3 separate regions of the Homo sapiens genome follow, and regions 2 and 3 are each reported to be linked to region 1. The links are microRNA targets in miRTarBase. Many come from high-throughput screens and were not tested one by one. Region 1 holds a microRNA gene; each other region holds the end of a gene's coding sequence.

The links. The annotated mature microRNA hsa-miR-6793-5p reads UGUGGGUUCUGGGUUGGGGUGA and lies in region 1 at 808-829, shown strand. An mRNA with a match to its seed (bases 2 to 7 or 8) in the 3' UTR can be bound and repressed. Matches are read on the target gene's strand: a 7mer-m8 pairs with bases 2 to 8, a 7mer-A1 pairs with bases 2 to 7 and ends in A, and an 8mer does both.
Region 2: the mRNA of RAB7A is a reported target of hsa-miR-6793-5p. Seed matches in the 3' UTR shown: 7mer-A1 at 2,289-2,295.
Region 3: miRTarBase lists RDH10 as a target of hsa-miR-6793-5p. Seed matches in the 3' UTR shown: 7mer-m8 at 595-601.

What each region holds. Positions count from the first base shown.
Region 1 is chr19:10,828,171-10,831,170 of GRCh38, forward strand. MIR6793 (microRNA 6793) reads left to right here and starts at 803; the gene lies at 803-865. It overlaps DNM2 (dynamin 2), which reads left to right. Exons shown (of 21, transcript NM_001005361.3): 19 at 866-1,098; 20 at 1,957-2,208; 21 at 2,808-3,000. The coding sequence ends at 2,877.
Region 2 is chr3:128,811,667-128,815,974 of GRCh38, reverse strand. It overlaps RAB7A (RAB7A, member RAS oncogene family), which reads right to left. Exons shown (of 6, transcript NM_004637.6): 6 at 1,177-2,648. The coding sequence ends at 2,553. Among named protein-coding and RNA genes, the nearest start is that of MIR12124, 33 kb to the left of the region's middle. RefSeq lists an enhancer at 2,535-2,829.
Region 3 is chr8:73,321,426-73,325,733 of GRCh38, reverse strand. RDH10 (retinol dehydrogenase 10) reads right to left here. Exons shown (of 6, transcript NM_172037.5): 5 at 2,924-3,055; 6 at 453-2,821. The coding sequence ends at 2,698. It overlaps RDH10-AS1 (RDH10 antisense RNA 1), which reads left to right. Exons shown (of 6, transcript NR_125388.1): 4 at 3,647-3,994. Among named protein-coding and RNA genes, the nearest start is that of RDH10, 29 kb to the right of the region's middle.

The sequences.
Region 1 (3,000 bases):
CCCAGCTACTTGGGAGGTTGAGGCACAAGAATTGCTTGGACCCAGGAGACGCAGGTTGCAGTGAGCCAAGATTGCACTGCAGCCTGGGTGACAGAGTGAGACTCTGTCACAAAAAAATAAAGATATAACAGGATTGGCTGGGCGCGGTGGCTCACGCCTGTAATCCCAGCACTTTGGGAGGCTGAGGCAGGCGGATCATAAGGTCAGGAGATCGAGACCATCCTGGCTAACAGGGTGAAACCCTGTCTCTACTAAAAATACAAAAAATAAGCTGGGCGTGGTGGCAGGCGCCTGTAGTCCCAGCTACTTGGGAGACTGAGGCAGGAGAATGGCATAAACCCGGGAGGCGGAGGTTGCAGTGAGCTGAGATTGCACCACTGCACTCCAACCTGGGCGACAGTGAGACTGTCTCAAAAAAAAAAAAGCAAAAACAAAAAAGATATAACAGGATTATTCTGCCAAGGTTAAGGAAATAAATAAATAAGCTAAAACAGGAGAAAAGACATCAATGGAAGAGGCAAGATACTAGAAATAAGTTGAATAAGAATCTCATAACCAGCCTGGGCCACATGGTGGAACCCTATCTCTAAAAAAATTACAAAACTTAGCCAAGCATGGTGTCAACGTGCCTGTCGTCCTAGCTACTTGGGAGGCTGAGGCAGGATAATTACTTGAACCCGGGAGGCGGAGGTTGCAGTGAGCTGAAATTGAGCCACTGTACTCCAGCCTGGGTGACAGAGCAAGACTCTTTTTCAAAAAAGTCTGGGGGTGGCCCCGCCCTGTGAGAGATGTTTTTCCAGCAGTCACTGTGGGTTCTGGGTTGGGGTGATACACAAGCCTGACCCTCCCCAACCCCTGCCCGCAGACGAAGGCCTTCATCCACCACGAGCTGCTGGCCTACCTATACTCCTCGGCAGACCAGAGCAGCCTCATGGAGGAGTCGGCTGACCAGGCACAGCGGCGGGACGACATGCTGCGCATGTACCATGCCCTCAAGGAGGCGCTCAACATCATCGGTGACATCAGCACCAGCACTGTGTCCACGCCTGTACCCCCGCCTGTCGATGACACCTGGCTCCAGAGCGCCAGCAGCCACAGGTCCGGAAGCCTGGTTCCCCTACCCTCAAGCATTCGGCCTGCAGGTTCCTGCCCTCCCTGTGTGTCCTGCAGGGTCCTGGCAGGAAACAGGACACAGCCCAAGGGTGGCACCCAGGGCTGGGCACTGTGGGAGCTGCTGCCCTGCTGAGGCCGGAGGAGGGAGAGAAGGGGTATGGGGGCGAGCCAGCCCTACAGCTCTAGGGCAGGACCCTGTGAATAAATACCCCGCCTGCCCTCTGCTGGTGCCTTCCATTGGCACAGCCCAAATGGAAGCTGGGGTAAGAGGCTGGAGGGGCAGCAGCCACAGGAGAGAGATGAGCCTCCTGGAGCACAGAGAAGGGCAGATGGGAGGCTCTGGAGGGGCAAACGCAAGGCGTGGCCAGAGCTGCTGCCGCCCCTGAGTTGTCCATTGAGGCCGTCGGGCAGGGAACCTCAGAGGGGGCTGCCTTGCAGAGCCCTGGGGGAGCCATGGAGTTCCTTAAGGGGAGGATATCGCACCCAGGCCTGCAGGTGGCAGGGACTGAGGCCCAGGAGGGAATCTGGATGTCTGGACAGGGCTTGCAGGTTCCACGGCCCCTAGAGATATTAGGGCTTGATCTGGAGGACTCTGGAAGTGTCTTTGGCTGTGAGGGTGGATCCCAGGCCCAAGGCCTGAGGGGGCCCTGTGAGTGGGAAGTGCCTGAGGGGGCCGAGGGCAAGGGAAGGTGGGACTGGCGCTCAGGTTGGGGTGGGAGGATCCCACTGCGCCTGCGCTGTCCCCATAGCCAGCCCCCACCTCAGGTTCTGGCAGCCACAGTGGCATGGCGGGGGCTCCTACTCCATCTGTATCTGTAGCTCACACCCTCTCCTTCCTCACAGCCCCACTCCACAGCGCCGACCGGTGTCCAGCATACACCCCCCTGGCCGGCCCCCAGCAGTGAGGGGCCCCACTCCAGGGCCCCCCCTGATTCCTGTTCCCGTGGGGGCAGCAGCCTCCTTCTCGGCGCCCCCAATCCCATCCCGGCCTGGACCCCAGAGCGTGTTTGCCAACAGTGACCTCTTCCCAGCCCCGCCTCAGATCCCATCTCGGCCAGTTCGGATCCCCCCAGGGATTCCCCCAGGAGTGCCCAGGTAAGGCCAACCCCCTGCCCTCCACCCCAACTGCCTGCACCCTGGGGTCTCTCCTCCTGTCTCACTTCCTCCCAGTGAGCTCTCACTACGTGCCCAGCTGCTGGAGTGGAGGAATCGTCCTCATCCCTATTTGGCTTGCGAGGAAACAGGCCCAGAGAGGCCAAGAGGCTTGTTCAGTGTCACAGAGTAGCGGAGCCCTGGTGACTCCGGGGCTCCCAGCTTGCCCTCTGCCTACTGGGGTGTGCCACCAGGCAGCTGGGGAACCCTCACACTGGGCACCTCCTCCCACTGTTTACCTTCTTCTCCTTCCTGCTCCTGCCTGCCTCAACCTACCGTGGGCCAGGCTTTATTCTCCCCACTTCTCCGGTGGGGAAGCTGAGGCCCAGGGAGGGCAGGGGGCTCACTGAGGGTCAAACAGCAGGCGAGTTGATGCCTAGGTTTGGCACTCCTGCCCGACACCCTGGTGGCTTGCGGAGGTCAGCCTGGGAACACCCTGGGGTGGTGTGTGGGTGGGGGCTGGGTCCTCAACCCAGGCCTGCCTCTTGCTCCCGGCCTCACTGCCGTCTCCCCCTCCCCACCTGTCTTTATTCTCTTTGCAGCAGAAGACCCCCTGCTGCGCCCAGCCGGCCCACCATTATCCGCCCAGCCGAGCCATCCCTGCTCGACTAGGCCTCGAGGGGGGCGTGCTCTCGGGGGGGCCTCACGCACCCGCGGCGCAGGAGCTTCAGTGGTCTGGGGCCCTCCGCCGCCCCTATGCTGGGACCAGGCTCCCAGTGGGCAGCCCTGGCCTCT
Region 2 (4,308 bases), not on the chromosome of region 1:
AGGAGGTGGGTCAGAGTCAAGGTCATTCAGCAGTGAACGTGTTTAGGGTAAAGTCAAAGCCAGTTCAAAGCCAAAGCCATTAAAATTAGGGTAAGTTATGATAAGGACAATGGTTGAAATCAGTCAATTAAAGATTACATTCATCTCAAGCTAAAGCAGGTTAATATCAGGATGATCATCAGTTTTAGGATGAAGGTCAAGCAGGTCAGAAGTCAAGGTCCATTTTAATGTCACATACAAGGTCAAGACCAGTGGAACACAATCAGAGGAATAGATGCCTGATTTGCAGAGGTGAGCATCACACAAGGGTCCACACCCTGTGGCCCAGTCACTGGGCCCCAAGCTGGAGAGAACTCTGCTCCTCTAGAGGACAAACACCTGATGAGGCCCAAGCAAAATATAGGACCAGAGAAGATTTAAGCCACCCAGCCAGGGTGGAATTGCACTGTGGATAATCTCACATTGTGCAGCATCTGAACTTCTAAACTATGCTATTTTTAACACATAAAGTACATGCCAAGAGGAGCCACGAGGAAAGAAACCAGCTGAGGAGCCTGAGAAGTGGAAATGTAGAAAAGTGTAGCAAAGTAGAATTCAAGATCTAACTCAATGAGGCACTTCTGCAAAACCTAAAGTGACTCACGACCTGAACTACTACTATTTTAATAAAATTGCTTCTAAGTGGCAACTATTCCATTCCAGGTGGGGGCTTACATATGTTGGAATACAGGGCCTCTGCTGCCAAATCTTCCTCTCCTGTGACAAATGCAGAATTACACATCTAAGTGTTAGCAACTAGGTCAACTAAAAATAAAACACATAACACATGACTAGGTTACAGTTACACCTACAGGATATGCATGGCTCAGAGTCCCCAGCAGTTTCTGGCTGCTCTCCTAAAGGGACAATGCGTTCTCCATCCATGGTCCTCAACCTCCAACAATGTGATTAAAATACACCCACCCCCGCCCCCGGAAAAAAAAACAAACAAAAAAAAACTAGGGACAGGCACTACAGGACCAGATATGAGAGGGCCTTTCTGCCTTGAAGCACCACACGTGCCCATTTATGGAGGGCTCTCTTGCTTGATAAGGCATTGACTATGATTAGCTCATGTGGTCTCTACTGAGCCAAGGCTCTTGAAGAAGGAAAAAAAGACTCTGGCAAAGGCAGATGATCATTGTTCTTGTTCAATTTTATTGGCATTGCGTTCATCTCTTTACAGAAGAACTCAGCCCACACCCTAGAATGTAGACCTTTGGAAAAAGGAGAAGTGCTCCGTTAAGCAAGCTACAATGCAGGGGCAGATCCTAGGAAGGGAGCAGAACTGCCAGGGTTCCAACCAAAGAAAGAGGTTAATTAATAATGGGCAATATTGGGGAGATGGGTGGGGAAAAGAGGAAAAAGCTCCGCTAACCTAAGAATACCACAACCCTGAAAGGAGCGCCTTCTAGAACAAAGGTAAAATCACTAGGACAGATCTGTTAGGGTTTTCCTTTCACTCTTGTAGTAGAATGCTGATCTAACGGGAGTTTTGAAGTGTGGAGCAGGGGGGAAAAAAAAGAAAGAAAATGAGAATTTTAATTTTTGAAATAACGGCAATTTATCCATTGCACATACCACTGTATTATGCAAATCAACGTTTTGGAAAATTTAGACACAGAAGGGAACTAGACAGTTTTCCCCCTGGAGAGATGAAAAGCTTTTTGGCTCTTAAGTCTTTGATAAAAGGCGTACATAATTCTTGTGTCTACTGTACAGAATACTGCCGCTAGCTGGATTTCCCAATTCTGAGTAACACTCTGCAATCCAAACAGGGTTCAACCCTCCACCTTACAGGCCTGCATTACAGGACTTAAACACATAATCCAAGAATTTCTTACACTAATTTATACATTTTAATTGGTTGCATATATTAACATGTACTATAAGATTCTTTTCTAAGAAGCATTACATAATAAATGGATACTGTAAAAAGATCTGATTAGTTAAAAGTAACAAGCATTAACAGATAGATACATACAAAACTCAGCCTGATCAGACTGGGTGTGAGCCTGTAATGGGGCATGGGGCACCAGCCTTCCCAAGGGGTAGCCTTCAAGGAGGGAGGGGAAAGGGGGGGTAAAAAGACCACAAGACCAATAAAAAAAATCAGATAATTAGACACAGATTAACTGTAAACAGTTCTCTCTCTCTCCAGTGAACAAAAAGAATAAGCTTCCAATGCCAACTCCATATCAGAATGACTTCCACCGCTGGCTTGTCCTGCTGCCATACTCGCGGGCTCATGTGGGTGGGCAGGCAGACCCCAAGGAGCCATCACGGGCAAGGGCTGGAGTTTGATTACGTCAGATCTGTGTGTGTGTGTGTGCGTGTGTGTGTGTGTGTGAGAGATATGTGGGGTGTAACTGTGTTTGATGGGGTTTTCTTTTGGCAGCTGGATGTGAGAGATCAATGTATGTTTTGTTTGGAAGAGGAGAGGGGAATTGTGTTGAAGGCCTACGTGTGTTCTTGGTTTGTGAAGGACTCTGTGCTCAACTCTCACTGCCCCCTCAGCAACTGCAGCTTTCTGCCGAGGCCTTGGCCCGGTCATTCTTGTCCAGTTTGATAGGTTCAGGAAATTCGTTGTACAGCTCCACCTCCGTTTCCTGGACAAGGAAACAGAGAAAGGTTGGTTACTCAGGGAATAGAAACATTTCAGCCCTCATTGCGGGCACTTTCTGCCCAGGAGGGGCTCACTTCTGCTTGGGCAGAGTGGGCGGGGAGCTGTGAAGCAGAGCCTGCCCACACAGTTAAGGGAGCGCTCTGGCAGAAGGTGCCATGCTCAGGGGAGTAGCAAGAGAAAAACAGATTTTGTGACAACTCCAGGTCAATGTGAAGAGAGGAGTCTTGCCAGAAGAAGCAGCAGTCTGCACTGAGCAATCAGGACAGAAGTTCATGGACATTCTCAATCAGATCATGATCTGGGAGCTCTACCACATCCAGTTCAGATGCTTTCTGTATGTTCCCTATAGTTGCCAATGGTTAACAATGGTCTGGATTTCTAGCTTTTCTCAAACATCTGGCAACCCTCAGCCAGTGTGTGCACGAGGTGAAGTGGCTGGAGCTGAGTGTGAGCTGCCCTCTCAGCCTGTAACATTCCTTCTACCTCCCTATCTTCCATCCACTTTTCGGGACCAATGGCCTCTGGTCTCTTTTTTCTTCCAAAGGTTTAGCAGAGTTTTGTCTCCCAAATGCTGCAGGCCTAGAAAGGAAGCTGTGAATGAATTTTATCACCATCTGTGACAAGTGATCAGAGCACATGGACTATGGTCATTTTAGTGGCACTTTGCTAAAGTAACATGCTTCCAATGAGGAGCAGCATTCTACTTTTGGGTGCAGGAAAACAATGTCACTTAAACACTGAGCACTTGTGTGCCAGTGACTGTTCTAGAATTTGGAGATAAAGCAGGAACTGTTTCTATTCATTAAAAGTTATCTAGGAAAAAAATCATTCCATTCACAATAACTATAAAAGTATAAAACATCTAGGAATACATACTTAAAAAAATAACAGCTTTGGCTGAGCATGGTGGCTCACGCCTGTAATCCCAGCACTTTGGGAGGCTGAAGCAGGTCGACCACCTGAAGTCAGGAGTTCAAGACCAGCCTGGCGAACATGGTGAAACCCCGTCTCTACTAAAAATACAGAAATTAGCCAGGCATGGTGACAAGCACCTATAATCCCAGCTACTCAGGAGGCTGAGGCAGGAGAATTGCTTGAACCCGGGAGGTCAAGGTTGCAGTGAGCCAAGATGGTGCCATTGCACTCCTAATAGCTTTGCTGGGTTTTAACTCACATGCCATGAAGTGTACAATTCAATGGTTTTTAGTATATTCAGAAAGTTGGGCAGCCATCAACATTAAGTTTAAAATACTCTCATCACCCCCCAAAAAACCCTATGCCCATTAGTAGTTCCTTCCCACCCCCATTCTATACCATCCTGGACCCAGCAACCACTCATCTACTTTCTGTCTCAATAGAGTTGCCTATTATTCTGGACACTTAATTTTTAAACATTATTTATTTATTTTAATTTTCCCCATTTCTTCTAGTGGACTGTGATTTCTTTCTTTTTTTTTTTTTGAGGCAGAGTCTTGCTCTGTCGCCCAGGCTGGAGTGCAATGGCATGATCACAGCTCACTGCAGCCTCTAACTCCTGGGCTCACACAATCCTCCAGTCTCAGCCTCCCAAGTAGCTGGAACTATAAGCTCATGCCACCACACCTAGCTAATTTTTAATTTTTAGTAGAGATGAGGCCTTGCTA
Region 3 (4,308 bases), not on the chromosome of region 1:
CAGACAGAGGTGGTGCTCCTTAGGGGATCAGCCTTGAGTGCAGTGGCCCTGAACATTCACATGAATGGGCCAGATGACAAAAAAGAGAACATATTCAAAGTCAGCATTCATGTTAAGGGGTGGGGGCAGGTGTAGATAAATAACCAGCCAGAAAAGCAACCTTGGCAATTACATAAGTGATCAACACAAACAGGCAGACTTGTCTAGAAGAGATTTCATGTTTAGAAACAATAATGCACACAATCAGCAATGTAGCATTAATAAGAACGTGACATTGGGATGAAGAAATGCAACTTGTAGGAATTCCATAGTTCTAAACCTGCATTAACTGTATCCCTTTCCAAACTCCACAGCTAAAGATGGGAGGGAGAATATGGACAACATTCAAGGAAGAGCCACAGAAGTGATTGAACTGGGCTGGGACATGGGAATGAAAGACTTCTACAAAAAAGTTAAATGAATTAGTTTATTGAACTTGGAGATGGACACCCTTATAAGGGCAATAACAAACAAAAATAGAAATAGGTTTAAGTTATAACACACAAGAATAAAATTAGATGTAAAGACGACTTTCCTCAGTTTTAAGGTGGATAAGTGGGTTGTTAAATTATAACAGATTTCTCTAGGAGGGTCTGGTGTACTCCAGGCTCGCTGGGAGGCAGACCTGGATAATCTCTGAGTATATCTGTCCCCACCTGGCATTGTTGAGACCCTTCAGAGTACTTCTTTAGGTCCATGATTGAAAATTAAGAGGCAGCCAGTGCCTCCATTGTTATAAGGGCCATAAGGTTTGGTTATCTTTGATAAAGAGAAATGGAAACATATAACAGAGCTCTTCCTCAAGTCCTGCATTGGGAACATTAGCACACACCAGGACCTTTCCTATATGTAGACACAGTGCAGATTTGATCTGTGGTGCAGCCAAACTAAAACACAGGTCATGGCATTGTTTCCCCACTTTTGGTACAAACAAGCCCTTAATCAAGTCTCTAATCTAGGGACAGTAACATCGGCTATTTGAGTGCAGGCACCCTAGGTTGTTAATGTCTGTTTCCCAACACTATTCCATTCCAATATTTTTCTTTACCTAAAGTGGGATAATGATCATAAAAAAAAACACAATAATTTTCCTTACAACACTGCTGATAACTAATAATCACACAATTGCATGTAAGTTAATTCTTTAAATTTAATCAGTCATTTATAAAACTCCCCAATTAGTAAAAGTTGGCTTATTTTAACAGCCTTAAACATTGGCCACTATTTAAACAAGACATTCTAAAAAAAAAAGCAATCACATAATAGTTTATAGTCATTTACAAGTGGATGGTATACATTTAGATACAGAGGTAGAAGTTCACCTTTACAATGTTTCACTAATACACATATACCAAATTCAAGGCACAAAATAGTTTGCTTTACAAAAAAATACTGTAAAAATGTCATTTGCTGTTCTACAATGTGAATAAACCTTTCAAAAGAATCTTTACACCCTTCCATACATATGCCATAGAATAAGATTTCTTCCTCTCACTAATCATAGTTGGCACAAAAATGGGGACTTTTCAATGTAGAAGTTCCCATTTTTAAAAACTGTTCCTTTGCAGAGCTGCTATGTATTCTAGATAAGAGTCCATCCAAAGAAATGAAACACAGCAACTTCCTGAGGAAAGGGCACTTTCTGTATGCAGCAAAATTCATAGGTAGAAAATGTATGATCTTTTAGGATAATTAGGTCTCCAGACACTTAATGAAGTATATCAGAGATAAAATTAAAAATTCAAGGCTGGGTGCAGTGGCTCATGCCTGTAATCCCAGCACTTTGGGAGGCCGAGGCAGGTGGATCACAATGTCAAGAGATGGAGACCATCCTGACCAACATGGTGAAACCCCGTCTCTACTAAAAATACAAAAATTAGCTGGGCGTGGTGGCGCATGCCTGTAGTCCCAGCTACTTGGGAGGCTGAGACAGCAGAATCACTTGAAACTGGGAGGCAGAGATTGCAGTGAGCCGTGATTGTGCTACTGCACTCCAGCCTGGTGACAGAGCGAGACTCCATCAAAAAAAAAAAAAAAAAAATTCAACTAATACTTTAGTCATTGTGACTTTAAGAAAGAGACTTGGTCACCTTTACTGTAACACTCAGACATCATTTACTTCAGTTGATGGAGATTTCAAAATTCCTTTTCAAAAGAGCTAAACATACAAACACCATGAAAAAGTCACCTAGGCCTTGCAAAACGGAAACTTAGAAAACGTGAGAAAATACAGCACTATCAGTCCTTGAAATTGCGAAGATGTCAACTGGCTAGAGTTTAATAACAAGAATGAGTAAACTCTGGGAATTCTGAAAAATCACACACATGAAACATACAGTCTAGTTATCATTTCTAGACTTCCTGCTCATTAAAAAATAATGGTAACCTGAAGATGTCACACTGCTTCTCTACAGATTTGACTGGTTTCTGGGTTCTGCCTAAAAGGACCCTGTTGGCAACAACCTAAGTTCACTTGTACTGATCACATTTTCCAAGTACTCTAGTCGGTTAATTTACACTTTATTTTTTTAAAAAGTTGATTTAAAAAAGAAACAACACAAGTTTAGAATCCATAAAATGTCAGCAATGCTGATGTGCACTGGACTGAAACATCTTGATCATCTTCTGATAGAAGTAATATTCCATACAAAAAGATTCTTAGATTCCATTTTTTGCTTCATTATTGTTTGTGGCTTGCTTTCTTTGAGCAATAAAGGGGTACATACACTTGTCCGCTCCTAGGAACCGATACATGCACACAACTGCTTCAAATGGTAGGATGCTGAAAAAGGGAAGTCACAGCTGTTAGCAAACTTGAAGTTTCAATTAAGACATCGGGCAGGCATGGAGAGACCCAGTCAGTGAGGGAACCCCTCCCAGTTACCTCTTCATGAAGGTCACGATGTACATGAGGCGGGGAGTGCAGATCATGGGCTGGTCAGTGAGGATGGCCTTCATGGCCTGCTTCACACAGTAATCAGGCTTCAGAGGTGGCAGAAAAGGCTCAATTTCTTTCCTGAAAGTTATTTATTCAAAAACAAAATGAAAAATTAACACAATAGAAAAGACTGGAAATACATATCAAAACATTAACAGTGATGTTATCTGAGTGATGGGATTTTGGGTACATTTTGTTTTCTTCATAGTGCTTTTCTGTATTTTCCAAATTTTCCTGCTATGAACACATTTTATTGGCACAGTCTGGAGAACAAGTTGGGAAAAAAAAGCAAAATTGGTCTGCTTTTCCATAAGATGAAAAAGTCATGTTTTTAAGATGCCTTAAAAGTATTTCAAATTATTTTCCTATGTTTTGCTTTCAATAGAAAGAGGAGAAGGTGTTTGGCATAGCAAACACTAATCTCAAGCAAGATGCCAAGCTTTTAGTATTAGTTGTAGTCAAAATGAGGGTGTAAGCTTTCAAAGTGAAAGGAAGGCCACAGGTATCCACTTTCCAGGATGCCGGAAGAGGGAAAGCTAAGGTATATTCTCTAGGGGCCCCTGAAATGAAGGGTATATAGACATCCTACCTTCAGTTTGATTCACTGGGTTACATGTTGAAATGATAGTGTGCAATTTATTCCTTTCATTCTTCATTTTGCCACCATAGCTTTGGACCCCTGCACCTGCTGCTATGCTACACTGGAGGAAACAGAGCTCCGCAAGACCCTCAGCAACTGCTTCCCAAGTACATAAGAGGAAAACAAAACAAAACAAACCACCAACACACACACATGTTCACACAGACACACACATGTGTGGGATAAGAGGCAGAGCTAGAGTCCATTTTCCAGGTCAGACTTGGGACTCCAAGCCTGACTTTGGAGTGATTCAAATCACCTTCCACCTATTTTGCTGCTTGTTCAGTTCAGTACACGTTAAGAATGGCCCCCAACCAACAGGGAACTGGTTTGGTTATCTTCCTTTGCCTTTCAAACTCACCCAAGCAAAGATAAAAGTAAGCATGTCTTCACAAGCATCCTCTTAATGATTCACAGTTTTGTTTATTCTGCTGAGCTCAAGTCAGATGTAACTTGACATTTATATTCCCATATACCTCCTTTCTATGTGTGTGGGTATTTTATTTCATTTTTCAGTATATCTAAATGGTTCTTCTCATTCTGCCAGAGTGAATCTAGTTACATACGCTTGCTGCAAAAAGGAAGTTTCCAAATCTGGAGTGTAATATTCAATGGTCTTTTCAGAAGAAAGGCACGTTACTCTCTGTGACAGTAACATTGCTTCATATCCAGACCCAAGTCACATGAAGGA